Homo sapiens: one gene and its partner. The protein of the gene in region 1 interacts with the protein of each later gene in a pairwise test. Each region holds a gene or a part of one and is shown on either strand. Other genes may lie near its edges. The genes, in order: TBX3 and CA8.

Region 1 (7,421 bases):
TAGAAGAATGCCTGAAAGTAAGTGCTGTGTCCAGCTGTTATCTTTGTTACTACCTATCTACTCTGCTGGAAACAGCCTTTAACTTCGGAAAAATTTTAAAGATTTTTGGGGTGAATGGGGAGAATGAAGTCATAATAACTCCATGAGCTAAGCCTTGAACCCGGTAATGGCTCAGTAAAAATTATTACAGCTACTAGGCCAAAGGGATCGGGTGAGGGTCTGCTGGCAAAGGACAGGGAAACTGGACGAAAGGTGGAAAGACTGGTGGAGGCAGGAAGAAGGATCCATACCTGAGAGGCCAGGACGTGCTGCTGGAGGTGGAAGGGCAGGGTGGCCGCGGACGCCCCGGACAGTCCCTGCGCCGCAGCGGCAGAGGCCATGGCCGTGGAATCCAGGCCCGAGACACCGGTGGAGGCCCCAGAAACCGTGGCCAGGAGGGGACCCATGCCAGCGGCCGCCATGCTGGAGAAGGCGCCCCCCATGGCAAACTGGCTGGGGTGCAGGAAGAGCGGGTGCCCGTTGAAGAACTGTTGGCCCGCCAGGCCCGGGGCGAAGCCGAGGCCAGGCAGGGGGCCCTGGGCCAGGTGCGCGGCGGCCGCGTCCGTCTGCACCGTGAGCGGCGCGAAGGCCTCCTTGCCCGGGAGCGCGCGCGCCTCTTCCACCTTGGCCGGCGCTGTGCCCTCGCGAACCGGGCTCCTGCGCTCCTCCGCGCCCAGGCCGCGAGTGCTGGACGAGATGGTGGCGGGGCTATGGCGTGAGTCGGGCGACGCTTTGTCCAGCCGCCCGCTGTCCCGGGGCCGCTCAGCAGCGAAAAGGTGAGCCTTGACCGCGGGGCTGCCCTTGTCACGGCAGGGCTCCTCCGACGTGGTGGTGGAGATCTTGGCCGCGTCGCAGGCCTCGGGGCCATGCTCCTCTTTGCTCTCGGCCTCGGCGTCGCTCTCACCCTCGCTGGGACATAAATCTACCACAGGCGAAGGAAAAAACCAAGGCAGAAGGGCGTTATCTCCAGTATGAGCCAACGGAACTCCAGTTCCCAAGTTGGAATCCCAGCTCGTGGCTTAGTGGCTGTGTAATCCCGGGGAAAGCCCCTTAGCCTCTCTGCACCTCAGTGTTGTCATCTGCAAAATGGGGATAATCGTGCCCAACAACATTGCTGGAAAATTCAATAAGCGATTATGAATTTAAAGTATTTACCCAGAGTTTAAACTTTCCCTTAGATGGACAATCCCCTAATCAGTAGCTCTTCTTATTTTAATGAATTTTACTTCTTTTTTTGAGTTCCTACAGTGGCAGATTTCACATGCATCTCCCCATTCGATTGCAAATTAACTTTTTAAAAGTAAAAAGTAACATTAAAACTCACAGCTGGAACATATTCTAATTACTATCAAAAAATCAGTGAATGACAGAGAGCAGCACCTTCCACAAATTTGTGAATTACTCTGGAAGGATTTGTTTGGCAAGAACCCTGACATCTGAATTGATAATGGCAGAACGGACACCTGTCCTTCAACACCAGTACTCAGTTGAACCGTTTGTATTTGCCCCAGTCCCTGCAGAGAGAGATGAGTGTCGGACAGATGGCTCACAGCCCGGGGACGATCATAGATTCTTTTTTCGCTTTTACCACACCCTCTGTGGGTGTTCCACCAGAAGAAAAGAAAAAGGGATCCTATTTTATGTTTAAAGCTTAAATGGATTGAAGACATAAAGGACTTGCATTTTATTTCACTAAAAAACAGGTTTCTTCCCGTTGAGAGTGTGTGTGTGTGTGTGTGTGTGTGTGTGTGTGTGTGTGTGTCTTTCCAAATAAATACTGCTTGCTCTTTAAACACAGGTAACTGAGGGGGGATTTGAGCCATCTTGTCCACTCCTCACCCACCTCCCCCAGCTCTACCCCCACCGCAGATCCCCAGTGCTCCACCTCCTCTCCCAGGTCAATTGTTGCTTTATAGCTGGATGTTTTCTAGGCCACCTTCTCGGTTCCAGGTGGCAGAGTCCCTTGCTTCCCCCCCACCCAGTCCAACACATTGTAACCTAGAGTTCAAAGACAGTGAAAAGTCAGCAGTTGGAGCCTCTGTTGGTTGGAGAGAATGGGAGGAGAAAGAAACAGAGACAGAGAGAAAAGAGAGAAGCGCTTCAAGCAAGTTTTCAAAGCTGCTTGCCAAGAGGTAGTATGCAAACAGACACCCACCTCCCCTCCCCACCAGCCAAATAAGGATCTGGGAGAAAGGCCTCTGTGCTCTCCTTCTACTGCCTTAGCGGGGAAGGGGAGACACACCTGATAGCCCTTTTTGAACTCTGGCTTCTGTTTAAGGATGTTTAGAAGGCTTCTAGCTTTTAAAGGGCAAGTGCCCTGGTTGGTGCCCCATCCCCCTTCAACTCTTCCAGGCCACGAGGGACTGGAGTCCAGTGATCACAAAGGTGACATGGTTTACCTTTGAGGTTCGATGTCCCTACAGTGGAGGCGGCTGGAGAAGAAGCCTGGGCGAAGCAGTTGAAAGCTGCTTGTTCACTGGAGGACTCATCAGAGGTCCCATTCTCCTTTTTGTGTCTTTCATCAAACACCCTCATGGACTGCAGGGTGAGCTGTTTTCTGTGGCAGAAGCCCACACCCAGGTTACAGAATGTAACATACATTTCCCCTCTTTGTTTCCCTTACCCTTTCCAAAGCGGCACACACATACCTCACACCCTGCCTGCTGCCCAGGGACAACGCTAATTCACTGAAATCTGCTTGCCCCAGGGCAGCCACATAGACCCAAGCTTTGTCCTTGACCCTCTAACTGGGCTGAAGAGTGTGGCAGAGGGTTAGGGAGAAAGGAAGGAGGCTTCAGTTGCATTTATTCAAGATGGGGTTTCATTAGGAAAAGGCATTTGCTTGGGCTGTGAAATTTTATTTAAAAGCAGGAGAAGAGGCTGGATCTAGTCAGAGACAGCTGGACTGCCAGCCTTATATAGGGAGAACCGGGTGTCCAATCCTGCAAACACAACGCTGTCTGTCCCCAGCATACCCAAATTTTGGATGGTGGCTAAGATTGGGAGGAAGTGGTTATTTCATGCTGCACTTTACTGTAATCGTTTTACTAACAAATTAATTGGAATAAAAATATATTTAGCTGTTAGCAATTATTTTTTAATGCCCGCCCCAAGGGGATAGGTTAAAAATTTGGGGGTGATTTTCTGGATTTTAGAAATTCTTTGAAAGGGGGTGGGGGAGGGGAGACCCTCTTTCATATACTCTCCAGCTGTCTACGTAATGCAAAATGATACATGTCCCCACGAAGGAGGGAGAGAGCCATACATCTTTCCGAAGTCCCCAGCTCTGTCTGATGGTATTTGGAAGACAGGATTGCAAAAATTCCCAAGTATTTTCTCAATGGCATGGTTCTTTCTGGGACCTGCCTAGGATGAACTTAAATTAATTAGGAATTAATAGGCATCCCTGTATAATCTATTATCCCTGATGCTTCTCTTCCAGAGATAAGTATGGTGTAGCCTAGTTAATTTCCTTAAAGGTAAGGAGGTAGGAAAAGTACTTGTCCTGGGTATACTGATAGCGGCAAGCATGTAGCAGTGGGGAAAGTGAATGATTTCCACCCGCTCTTAGGATAAGTGCCTGCATCTCACTTCTAACACTTCAGAGTTGGATCCTAAAAAAAGGGATTTTTCTAAACTATCTAATAAATAATTGTTTCAACTCACCTTTTTTCTCTTCGGCCATTTCCAGTGTCCCGGAAACCTTTTGCAAAAGGGTTGTTGTCTATTTTTAACTGGGTTATCTATTGGAAGAGACACAAGCAAGACAGAGACATTGTTCTCATTTTCTAGAATGTTTTGAGGGTGTTTTTCCCAACTCAACAAGTCTAGAGATGTGACTGCCAACAGAAGTCATATAGATATGCCAGGGAAAGGAGATAATAAGGAAACTGTGGCAGGGCTTGTATCTCCTATATGAGGCCAAACCAGGGATTTGGGGATGAAATTATTCAAAGAAATTCTTTTCTTTGGGCAGCCAACAGTTTGGGTTTAGACATGGAAGTGTTGTCAAAGTCATCAAGAGGGAAAACCTGTAGATCTTAAAATTATGCTTTCATTTTGATTTTTATACAGTGCAATTAATCATAAATTATAGCATACTCCCTTCACACACACACACACACACACACACACACACACACACTCCTTTTCCATGAATCCAATAAATGATTTATGGGGTTTCACTACCCTTGTGCGGGAGTGAGTGCGGGAGTGAGTTTAATTTTTTTTTTCTTTGCCTGGGGGGTGGTTTGAGGAAATTACAATATTGACAGTTACAGTACTGAATGACCACTGGAAACATCTGTTTTCATTTATATGCTCTGCCATGGCCATTAGGTGGAGAAGGCCCATGGCCTTTTTGTCTGATCAAAAATGCTACATTTTATTATTACATTAACAACTTCATTTCACAGGATTCTGGGTCTAGAGGGCACATGCATTTTGCACTTTGAGAAAAATGCTATAGTGTGTAATCTTTCAAATCCCTTCCCCTTGGTGGGAAGAAGAAGTTATATACACAGAGTTACTCAGAGGTGGAAAGGGGGACCCTTGGTTGGATTCATGTTCTTGGAATAAATTGCTCTATTGAAGACTTCAGGTTTCACAGGGAGAGAAGATCATGTTTTGGTATTCACACTAAAGAAATTTAGCTGGAACATCCCCATCATGAAGTCCACAGAGGACCCAAGGACAGTGACAATGACAGTGAGTTCAAAATGAAGTGTGTTGTCAGGTAAAATGGACTCTCTTTGAAGTCCAGGATTGCAGAGCAGGGGTCTTCAGTCCCTCCTCCCACCCCATAACTGCTAACAGCCAATCTGGGAACTGGTGAATCAGCAGTAAGGGTCACTTTTTCTGTGCCCATGACCTTCAGGCCACCATAGCTCTAGATATCAGGTGCTTTCCCTTTTGGGGATCCTTCTAACCTCCAGATTCAGGCCTGGGGGAGGGGGGGAATTCAAATGAAGTGGTGACTTTGGCCACCCCAACTCAAAAGCCTCAGACAACTCGATTAATATGACCCTGTGATCAGGGTAGGTTTTTCCAACCACACGCATGCATGCACACACATGCACACACACACACACATCATAACACAGCAGCATAAAAGGTAATAAAAACCAGACCAGCTACTCAGGATTTCTGGCTAGGGGAGAAAAGCTGGTCTCTACTAGGATTCTCCTCCCAGGATCCCAAATGGCTTTTGCCTTAAATTTTTAGCTGGTTCCTTTTGAATGTGACTTCTTGATCCTTCTTCCCCAAGGGGAAGAAGATGAACCTTAAAACAGACAGGACAAAGCCCAAGAGGGGGGGAGGAGTGGGTGGCATCAATGACAGCAGTTCTAGGAGTTTCTCTGTGGCAAAATTAGTATGGCGTTTTTTTGCTCAGCATTGTTCCTACCTAGTCAAGGTGTTTTTCTGTCTCCTCGAGGTGTCATTGTCCTTTCCCCCCAAATGCTCCACAAATCACAAAAGACAACTCAAGACTCTCGTCTCCACTCTCTTGTAACTTTCTCATCCTGACTTAAAGCAGCTTTTAAGGGGAAGGCAAAATATCACCATTAAAAAGGAAAGCCCCTTGAGTTTACCTTATCATTCTGGTATGCAGTCACAGCGATGAATTCAGTTTCGGGGAACAAGTATGTCCGAAATGTACTATAAGGGAGTTTCAAGATGTCATTGGCTCTTACAATGTGGAACCGGGGCTGGTATTTGTGCATGGAGTTCAATATAGTCTGCAGGGGCAGGGAAGAGGAGACATACATAAAACAAGGATTTAGCAGAACAAACGGGATCTTAGGACCCCTGCCAGGCTGAAATCTTCCCCACCGCAGGGTACCACGCTTGTACCGAGCCCACCTCCTTGGAGTACCCCCTGGGTACGTTTCGCTCCACAGATGTTATCTTCTGGAGAATCCAAATTGCTCCTCAGTTGCCAAAGGGCCCCCCCCACCCTCACCATCTAAGGATCATTCATACCTTGAACCCTAGCCTACCTGAGTACCAAAACTATAATTCCCCTGCCACGTAGCGTGATCACTTGGGAAGGCCAAAGTCTTAAAAGATAGAGAAAAACATGCATTTTAATTTACAAAATGATTCAGTACTTTAAGCGCCCACTAATTGACGAGCCCAATCCACTTAAAGCCCTGAAAGGCTGAACTCTAGAGAGGAATATTTATGCCTTAATCAAATCAAGGGCTTCAAATGCAATTCCTGCCCGCTGAAGATATTTCCGCGCCATTCGCGTCTTCCTGGGCCTAATCTTTCTGCTTACTCCTTGCTTATCACGCTGTTTATTTTATTGAAATGTTGGGGAGGGGTAGGAAAAGGCGCAAAAGGTCCTTTGCCTGATATCTACAAGCAATGAAAGTTTTCTAAGTTTCTAAGCACTGTCACTGAATCCATATATACACTCCCAACACACAAACCATTTTTTTCTGAAGATCTAAGCCTCATTTAGGGTAAGCCGGACTCCCACCTAAGCCCAATTCTTTTTTTAGTAAAAGAACGAGTTTTTAAAAATGTATTCACACCATTTAACCAACAGAGTCAAGGCTCCGAAACGTAAACTCTCCTGAGAAAATAATATCACTGGTTTCAAAACAGAAGTATGATATTTTAAAACAAAACAAATCCTTTAGGAATACATAGCCTTGAAATTGATTTTAGCTCTTAAAAAATGGTTTTTAACTTCACTCTCAGGTCAGGAATCTACCAAAGAGCTGGAATTGCTATAGAACACAAGCCGGTAAGTTTTCTTGCCCCATTTCTTTTAGAACGCCAGGCCTTCCATTATTTGGAGAGAAACACCCCGAATCCTTTTTCCAGACGAGGACAAGTTTGCTATGCTTAGGGAGAAGCAAAGGAGAAGTCTGGGCTGAAACTCATGAAATGGGAAGCACTGCCTTTGACTGAGTGAAGGAGGAGAAAATTTTACTGAAGAGAGCAATGAAACTTACAAATCCATGTTTGTCTGAAATGTTGTTGGTGAGTTTCAGTTTGTGGAAAGTGACGACTTTGGACATCCACTGTTCCCCAGTAGCGGGGCTGTCCGGGTGAATGTACATCCTCTTTGGCATTTCGGGGTCGGCCTTACCAGCCACCATCCACCGAGAATTGTGAAATTTATAACGACAGTCATCAGCAGCTATAATGTCCATCAATAAAATGTATTTGGCTTTTTTATCCAGCCCAGAACATCTCACTTTAAATGGAGGAAACATTCGCCTATAAAACGAAAGAATAGAAAAGAAAAAGAAAGATAAACCACCCGTAATCTTGGGTTTGATTTCCTATGTATCACATAATATTGAAACCAAGTCTAAGACTTTATATTGTGACTGATAAGCTTACATGTTTCAGAGTGAGGCAACTGG
Region 2 (7,793 bases), on another chromosome or scaffold:
GCCATCTTTTCCAAGAAACTTTTCTGAATCATTCCCATTAGTATGAAAATCCCATCTTCCTTAAATGTAGTGGTACCTGCATTTCTATTTAACATATTTCTTGTATTATCATTATTTACTTGTATTATAGTTATAATTATTTACTTGTATTATAGTTTTAATAATTATAATTATTTACTCCTCTCCTCCCCCAGAGAACTGTGAATTTCTCGAGAGCAGAAGCAGTATTTTATTCCTTTTTTTTTTGGTTCTCCCACAGTGCCTAGTGCCTTGCTCTTTGGGAGCTCATTGTTTAGAGGAGAAGGTCATAAAATACATATTTAAAATACAATCTTAACTTCAGGGTTAGAGATCTATACAGGGCATTGTGAAAGCACTAAGAAGAGGTAACTTTAACCTCTGTGGCTTAAACACATAAGGGGTTTTGTTTGGCAGAAGGTGCCCTAGAGCTTTTGGTGACTTGGGAGTCACCAATGTAATTATCTTAAATATTCCTATTTCAGCATAAGTCATTTTGGTGCTGAATTCATGTAGGGCCTCAGGCATAATTCGCATGGTCTGAGAGAGGGGAAGAGAGCTGCGGTCCATGTTCCTTAGAGAAGATGGGGATTTTCTATGGATAAGGGCTTTCTCATTCTGCCATGAAGTGGTAAGGGCCCTAGCTGGGGTTAGGGCGTCCAAGAAATTGGTGAGGTGAAGATAAGAGCACTGTACTAGACTGTTTGGTTTCTTTGCAGGCCAGAGATACTTTTTTTTTTTCTTTGAAGAAAAAGATAAAGGCAAAAACAGCATTTGAGCAAATAAAAATTATCCTTGAACTCACCTTTACTTGATGGGCTACTATGTCTGTTTTTGATAACGCCTAAATCTTTCTTCTAGGAAATGGCACGTGCCACCTCTACTCATATTTAATTCGTCAAAGAAGTCACATGGTCAAGCAGTGAAGGGGCAGCAAATGATAGAGACAATGATGTCATCTCCAATGACTACATGGAGCCCTAGTCGTTTGTTTCTGAAGATAAAAGACCAAGAAGAGGTCAAAAAAAAGGAGGCTCGTAAATGTAACTTTAAGCAGGTGAAATAAAAGATTAATCAGTTGAAAAAAGTAATTTAAAAGGAAGAAGTAAATTTTTTTATCAACAAAGTTTGAAACCTTCAGAAATCAAAATATATATAATGAAGAAAATTTTGCTGTCTTTCCTGACAAAAGAAAAACTAGACATAAGGAATTAAACAACCATAGGAAAAAGTGCCTTACCTGAGACATAAGCCTAGAGAAGTGCTTATTTTTAGTGTATCTGAATTGGTTTTGGCAGTCACAGATGGCATTTAAGGGAGCAAATAGATCCGCAATGAGCACTTGCATGATTCGGCATCTTTGTTCACACCTGGAATGTTATTTGCTCACATGCTGCCCACCCAAACTCTGCCCATTTCCTCTAGTTTGCCCCAAATGCCATCTTGTTCAACTTTTCTAAATCATTCCCATTAGTATGAAAATTCCATCTTCCTTAGATGTAGTGGTACCTGCATTTCTATTTAACATATTAATATTGCGTATTGCCTTGTATTATAATTATTTACCCCTCTCCTCCCTCCAGAGAACCATGAGTTCCTTGAGAGCAGAAGAAGTATTTTATTTTTTATTTTTGGTTCTCCCACAGTGCCTAGTCCAGAGCAGCGCACATGAAGGAACCCAATTCATTGCTGTTGAAGTTTATGAATTACAGTTTGTATAGGAGCCACGTGACATGCATATGTTAGCTGTACCCTTGAGGTGATCCCAGAGCATAAGATGCACATAAGAGGAGGTCAAATTTATGACTCTAGGGCCTAGACTCACCGATACAATAAGAAAGCTTTGGTACGGTAGACAAGCAGTGAGGAAAGACAGGAGCGGGCTGTCTAGGTTGTGGACTCTGGGAAGCGACCTTAGTACTTTGGTTCCTCTGACATCTAGATTAGTTTGTCCCTTTTAGATATTTCTATTTATATTCTCTTAGTATCAAATGGTAGTTAGTTATATAGGTCTTAGTTTTAATAAATTGTTCTACTAATATGGTTTGGTCTTAGCTATGCAAGCACTAAATGTGAGCAATATAAAGTTAATTTAAGGGATCAAATATAATATTAGGCTGAAAGCCTATTAAAAATTATAGAGGAATATGTGGAAGACACATTCATAATACAGAGTATGAATATTTTTAGATTCTCTGGTATTGGATTTAGATGTGCTTGTTCTATTTTGTAAAACAAAGAATTGCCCTATATCTTTGATCTGTGTGTTTAGATTTTTTTAGTGACAGACACCTTATAATAACTAGAAATAGAAATTCCATCTTTGGTGGTAATATAGTGCAGGGACCTGAGAAGAGAAGGTCTTAAGGTGCTGTTAATTAGCAAAAATCTGAACCCCACAGTCTCAAAGCAATTAAGGCTGTTAATTGAATATTTGGGTGCTTAGAGGATTGGCTCATATGTGGCTGGACAGGGAACCCTAGGCTTGCATACAGGAGTTACATTCTACAAATAATCATGAACAATTCAGAAGGAGCAAATATAGGCCAATGCTAGTAGTCAACTGCATATTTGAATAGTAATACATTGCTGGCTATATGCAAAATTGTCTTTTTACTGTAAAAGTAAATACTAATAATTCAATCTTTCAGCCTATCTTTTGTAAATATGGCACAGTATTTATTCATGGAAAATTCAGTTTTTTACCATGGTGATTGTACCATCCTCTGGTTTGATAAACATCTCTATGATTCACCTGATATTTTAAACACAGTTGGTGGTCACACAATGGCTACAATGTCATACTTAGGCACATTTGGGGGACAGAGGAGAAAGGCCATTGCTGATGAGCTCAGAGTGGCAGTGCTTTTATTATCCAATTCCTTCATAGCCTTTGTATGGGCTTCCTTAGCTGTGGCATTTAATTAACGTGTGAACATACTTCTAAAAAGAAACTTAAAACAAATAGAAGATTACAAAAAAGTTTTCAAGAAAGGAAAAATAAATGTTCCTTTTAGAAGACCTTCAGTGAAAAGTAGTTAATATTTTCAGTAGTGCTTATTATTTTTAATAGCTCTGGCTTTGGGGTAGGCTTCTGCTTCTGCCAGTCCCAGGCTTGCAAAGATGCAAACGACCGTCCACTAAAGAACACCCAGAATGCAGTGAGTGAAAAATGAATTTAGTTTCTCAAACTGTTTCAGTCCTCTGCACAGTTAAGGAAAAGAGAAATTATATGAATGCTTAAAATCCACCGGTTATCCTCCAAGCTAATGTTGGCCAGTAGTTTTCCATATATTTGGTTAAACCTTCCAGAAAGTGGCAGAATTGAGCGAGTTGAGGGTTCCCCCCACTTCTTTCCATCTCAGTGTACTTTCTGGAGCAGTTTGTAATTTTTTTTTTTTAAAAGCTATGAAGTGTCTTTTTAAAAAGTGGAGGTGCTTAGCAGGCAGTAAAGGATATGAGCACTGAAACTAAACATTCCCAAACGGATCATTTCCATCCTTATTTGAGGAATTATGCATTCATAAGGCTGGTGTGATTTAGGAACAGGTTATTCAAAGTGCAAATAGATATCTTCATGAATGACCAGAGCATATAAAAAACAAATTGTACTTAAGGTCCTAACTCGAGTTTATTGTGCACATATATCTTCTAAAAATGTGGAGTTAACCTACTTAGGGGTTACTGACCAGGGCTTTTAAAAGGCACAGGAACAGAGGGCTGAAGTCGTTAACACTAGACTGAGAAGCACGTTTAAGGGTAACAATGCCACCTCTTTGGATCAGAAGAGTTCCTGTTTGTTATGCAATGTGTGCACTTCATTATTTACACGATTTCACTAGGTGAATGGGAGCTGTGTACACAGCCAGGTGAGCCTGCAGCAGCGCCCCAGACTCTGACAGCGAACACCCTCTGTCTACTGCCTTCTGCTAGCCCTGCTTTGAAACAATACCCTTTTCTGGAAAAAAAAAAAAAAAAAACACAACCCTAAATCATAGCTACTTCTCTAGATAACAACCATTTTCTTTTCTTAAACGTTTTTAGGAATTAATAGAACTTTCTTGGAAAAATTTCCAAACTCGTTTCCACTGCGCTGAACGGACGATTTAAAAAGTAAATACTCAGAAGATACTAAGAAGATTCCGCTGGAGAGTCTCTTTTTATTGTGTTACGGGGTCTCCTAGCCCTCTCCTTTCTCCTACCCACGGCAGCCCATCTCTCTCCTCCAGGACCCCTTCTTTTTGGTATTTCCTGGAGTACGGATGAAAATGAATAGGTGAGCAGCCTCTGGGCTAGGCCAGGCACACAGGGGTCCCGAGTGACCTTGGGAGACTTGCGGGCTTCTGGAAGGAAGGCTCGGGCGGCCAAGCAGGAGTCGCCGCAGCGAGGAAGCGCCAGGAGGCGGCGGGGGCGACCCCGGGGGAAGGGCGGGCGGGGATGCGCCGAGGTTTCCGTGACTTGGGACTAGTCGCCCCGAGGCGCATTCTAACTGTCGGCTCCCCTGGCCCCAACGGCCAGAGAGAGAAGGGGGCGGATCCTCGCGTACCAGACACGCCCCGGTCGGGTATAAAATTCGCCAGGCGCTCGCTCCCCAGGCCACAGCCGCTCCCTCGCTCTGCTGGGGCCTCCGGACGCGCTTCCCACGCGGGTCTCTGGAACACTCGGTCCGAACGCACGCCTGCTTGCACTCACACTGCGGTTCACACCCGGAGGCGCTCTCGCACTCACACTGCCGCTCACGCGTGCTCACACTCCCCCACGCGCGCTCCGCTCCGGCTCCAGCCCCGCGCCCAGCGAAGGCGCAGGCACTGCTGCCGAGAGCGCCGAGGGGCCCCGCGGCCTTCCCATGGCGGACCTGAGCTTCATCGAAGATACCGTCGCCTTCCCCGAGAAGGAAGAGGATGAGGAGGAAGAAGAGGAGGGTGTGGAGTGGGGCTACGAGGAAGGTAAGTGGCCGCGAGTCGGGGTGTCCGGGGTCCCGCGGCGGCGTCAGTGTCTCGCCGAGCGCGGGACTCGAGTCCTGCTGCCGCTGCGCGCTCCGAGCACCCCCACGCCCCCTCTTTCCCACGGGGGTCTCTGCCACTTTCCCACTCCCCTGGTGCGTTTCGGGCGGGAGGCGCTCCAGGGAGGCGTGCTCGCCGCCTGCGCTCTTCCGCCGCCTGCGCTCTCACCCGGGAGCCTTCCGCAGGGCTGGCGTTCGCACCTGCTGCGGTCCGGAGGGCGGGCTAGCCTCCAAGCCGTGGCTGTACCTTTTATGTCTTCTGAGTAGTCAAGAAGAGCAGCGGTACATTTTACTAAACACCTGAGGAAGACAGTGTTAGCGTGAAGAATTCGTTTTTGGCTTGGAGACTTTGGGGAGAAAGTGTTTCTGCCTCTGGTCTTTTCGTGAAGCCTGCTAGCAATGCTCAAGTCTTTCTAAAACATGTCCTAAATTTCAGACTGAATCATTGGGTTTGGCGAGAAGCGGTTGACTTTCTGAAAAACTCGAGTTTCCTAGATTTATTCCTAAAGACCTAGGGCTCCTATTAGAGCCAACCAGTAGTGCTGATGTTTACTACATATGTTGAAACCAATATAGAATATATAATTTTAATTATAAAAAATTTGGAAAGACTATGGGAATATGTATGTACACAGATATATACATATGCACACTTTAAAATACTACACTTGCATTTCTGATAAGGGGCGTCTATTTACTAGCATGAGAGTTAGGGTTCTGACTGTCACTAAGTATGTTGAAAGTTACAGCTGTTTCCCAGGTACTGAACGTAATTGAACTAATAAGCAGAAGAAATTGTTCTGGTATTCTTTTTTCCTAATCACTTAAAAATGACCCAAATTTCCTAGAATCATAAATTATTATGTCTTTGTTGACAAATACAAATAGAATATTTTGCTAGTCCGGGATTTTGTGTATGGTATTTGATAATAACAGATCATTCAAATAATGAATGCAAAAACAAATAGAATTACCATATTTCATCTGTATAGTGATGGTATCATTACTCTCTTCATGATATCAAGGGTTCTAAGTGTTTAGTTTTTACATGTTAAATTTTACTGTAATTTATTTTTTAACCTGTTTTTAATTTATTTCATTTTGTTCTTAGGTGTTGAGTGGGGTCTGGTGTTTCCTGATGCTAATGGGGAATACCAGTCTCCTATTAACCTAAACTCAAGAGAGGCTAGGTATGACCCCTCGCTGTTGGATGTCCGCCTCTCCCCAAATTATGTGGTGTGCCGAGACTGTGAAGTCACCAATGATGGACATACCATTCAGGTTATCCTGAAGTCAAAATCAGGTATTTTAGAAAATATGTTTGTGTGGTCTTTTAAACTAGAAGTCAGCGTAGAGTTATTGAACTGTGATTTAACTTGCACAATTTAAAAAGTACAACTGACGTATCTCTATTTTCAGGATACCTTTGTATTATAATATAAAGCATTTTTGGGAATTACCTTCTGAAACAATTTTGAAAGGACAAAAGAGTGAAATTATGAAGATTATCAGTCGGTTGTTCTGCTTCTTATGATGTTACTGGAAAAACCTTAGTTTGATCACCTTATACCTTGTGAAATATGAGGACAGGTACATGCAGGTGCAGTAATCTGCGTTTTGTCCAAAATTGTTGATTAGCTTAAATCACTTAGATAATCATAATTCTCTGTTTTGCTACTTTGTGAAACCAAAGATTAGAATTTATTGACATAACGTGGCATTCAAGGTAGACTTCTCAGGTTAATTTTCTCTACTGTATTAGTTTGCCAAAAATAATTTTAACTAATAACAATAAGAAACAGCCTCTAAACTCAGCCAGAGATTTAAATGGTAAACAAACCTCTTCCTTTTATTTATTTATTTATTTATTTATTTAAGTTCCATCCCATGAAACTTCTCCTACCACTTGCAAACCTATTTGAGATGGATCTGAAATGTTCTGTGCAAAAGTTGTTAGGTAATTACCAAGGAAATCAGTTTTTGGCTTTATCGTAGGAAAGAGGAAATCAGATTTTTAAAAAATGTAGCATTAATAGCATGCATTTCATAGTGAATAATAACTGTCTTTTTCTTTTGGGAAAAATTAAAGTATGTTGAAATATTAGGACGTACTTGATAAATAGAGACTGTGCTCGAAAATTAATTCCAAGTTGATAAAGTTGATACCTCAAACTATAAAATCTTTAGGTTTGTTATTAATCAAGGCAGCTGTTGATTTCCAGCTATGGATTTATTTTATTCATTGTAAATGTTTCTAAGCTTTAATTTAGAATCCATGAGATAGTCATAGATTCATGTAGTCTCCTTCGCTGTTCTGAGTTTAGTCAGCATGTGAGCATTGCCCAAAAGAGTTACTGGGCTTTATATGTACTTAGTCAGAGTCAGTTTAAGATGGAAATTTCGACTTGAATTTTTTTGGGGGTGTGGGTTTAGCTTTGATGGGACATTACTTACTGTTTTTTAAAGGATATTGTAAAATTATTGAATGCTGACTGTTCTGGCATATAAAAAGCAATTTAAAGAAGTACATGTGTGTTGATGTGTTGAGATGCTTTGAACTTCCGGAAATAAATGTTTATATATCCACAAAACAAAAATACATTTCATGTCAGGTGCCATGATCAATATTGGTTGCATATAAATTTATAAGACAGTTCTTGAGGATTCATAGCCTAGTGAAAAGCCAGTTCTTTAAAGTACTAGTGTACACTTGATGTGGCAAGTGTTACAAAGGGTTGTGGGAGCAGAGAGCAATGACTAAGCACATATACTC

Evidence for each region.
Region 2: the proteins of TBX3 (region 1) and CA8 interact in binary tests that used the Homo sapiens proteins (3 or more experiments, as listed by UniProt).

Annotation. Positions count from the first base shown.
Region 1 is NC_000012.12:114,673,875-114,681,295, forward strand, and holds part of TBX3 (T-box transcription factor TBX3), read right to left. Parts: intron 7,273-7,421; coding exon 7,005-7,272; intron 6,099-7,004; coding exon of another isoform or gene 6,039-6,098; intron 5,778-6,038; coding exon 5,631-5,777; intron 3,783-5,630; coding exon 3,706-3,782; intron 2,597-3,705; coding exon 2,439-2,596; intron 962-2,438; coding exon 291-961; intron 1-290.
Region 2 is NC_000008.11:60,278,219-60,286,011, reverse strand, and holds the start of CA8 (carbonic anhydrase-related protein), read left to right. Parts: upstream 1-4,611; 5' UTR 4,612-4,864; coding exon 4,865-4,964; intron 4,965-6,131; coding exon 6,132-6,323; intron 6,324-7,793. UniProt on the Homo sapiens protein: Does not have a carbonic anhydrase catalytic activity.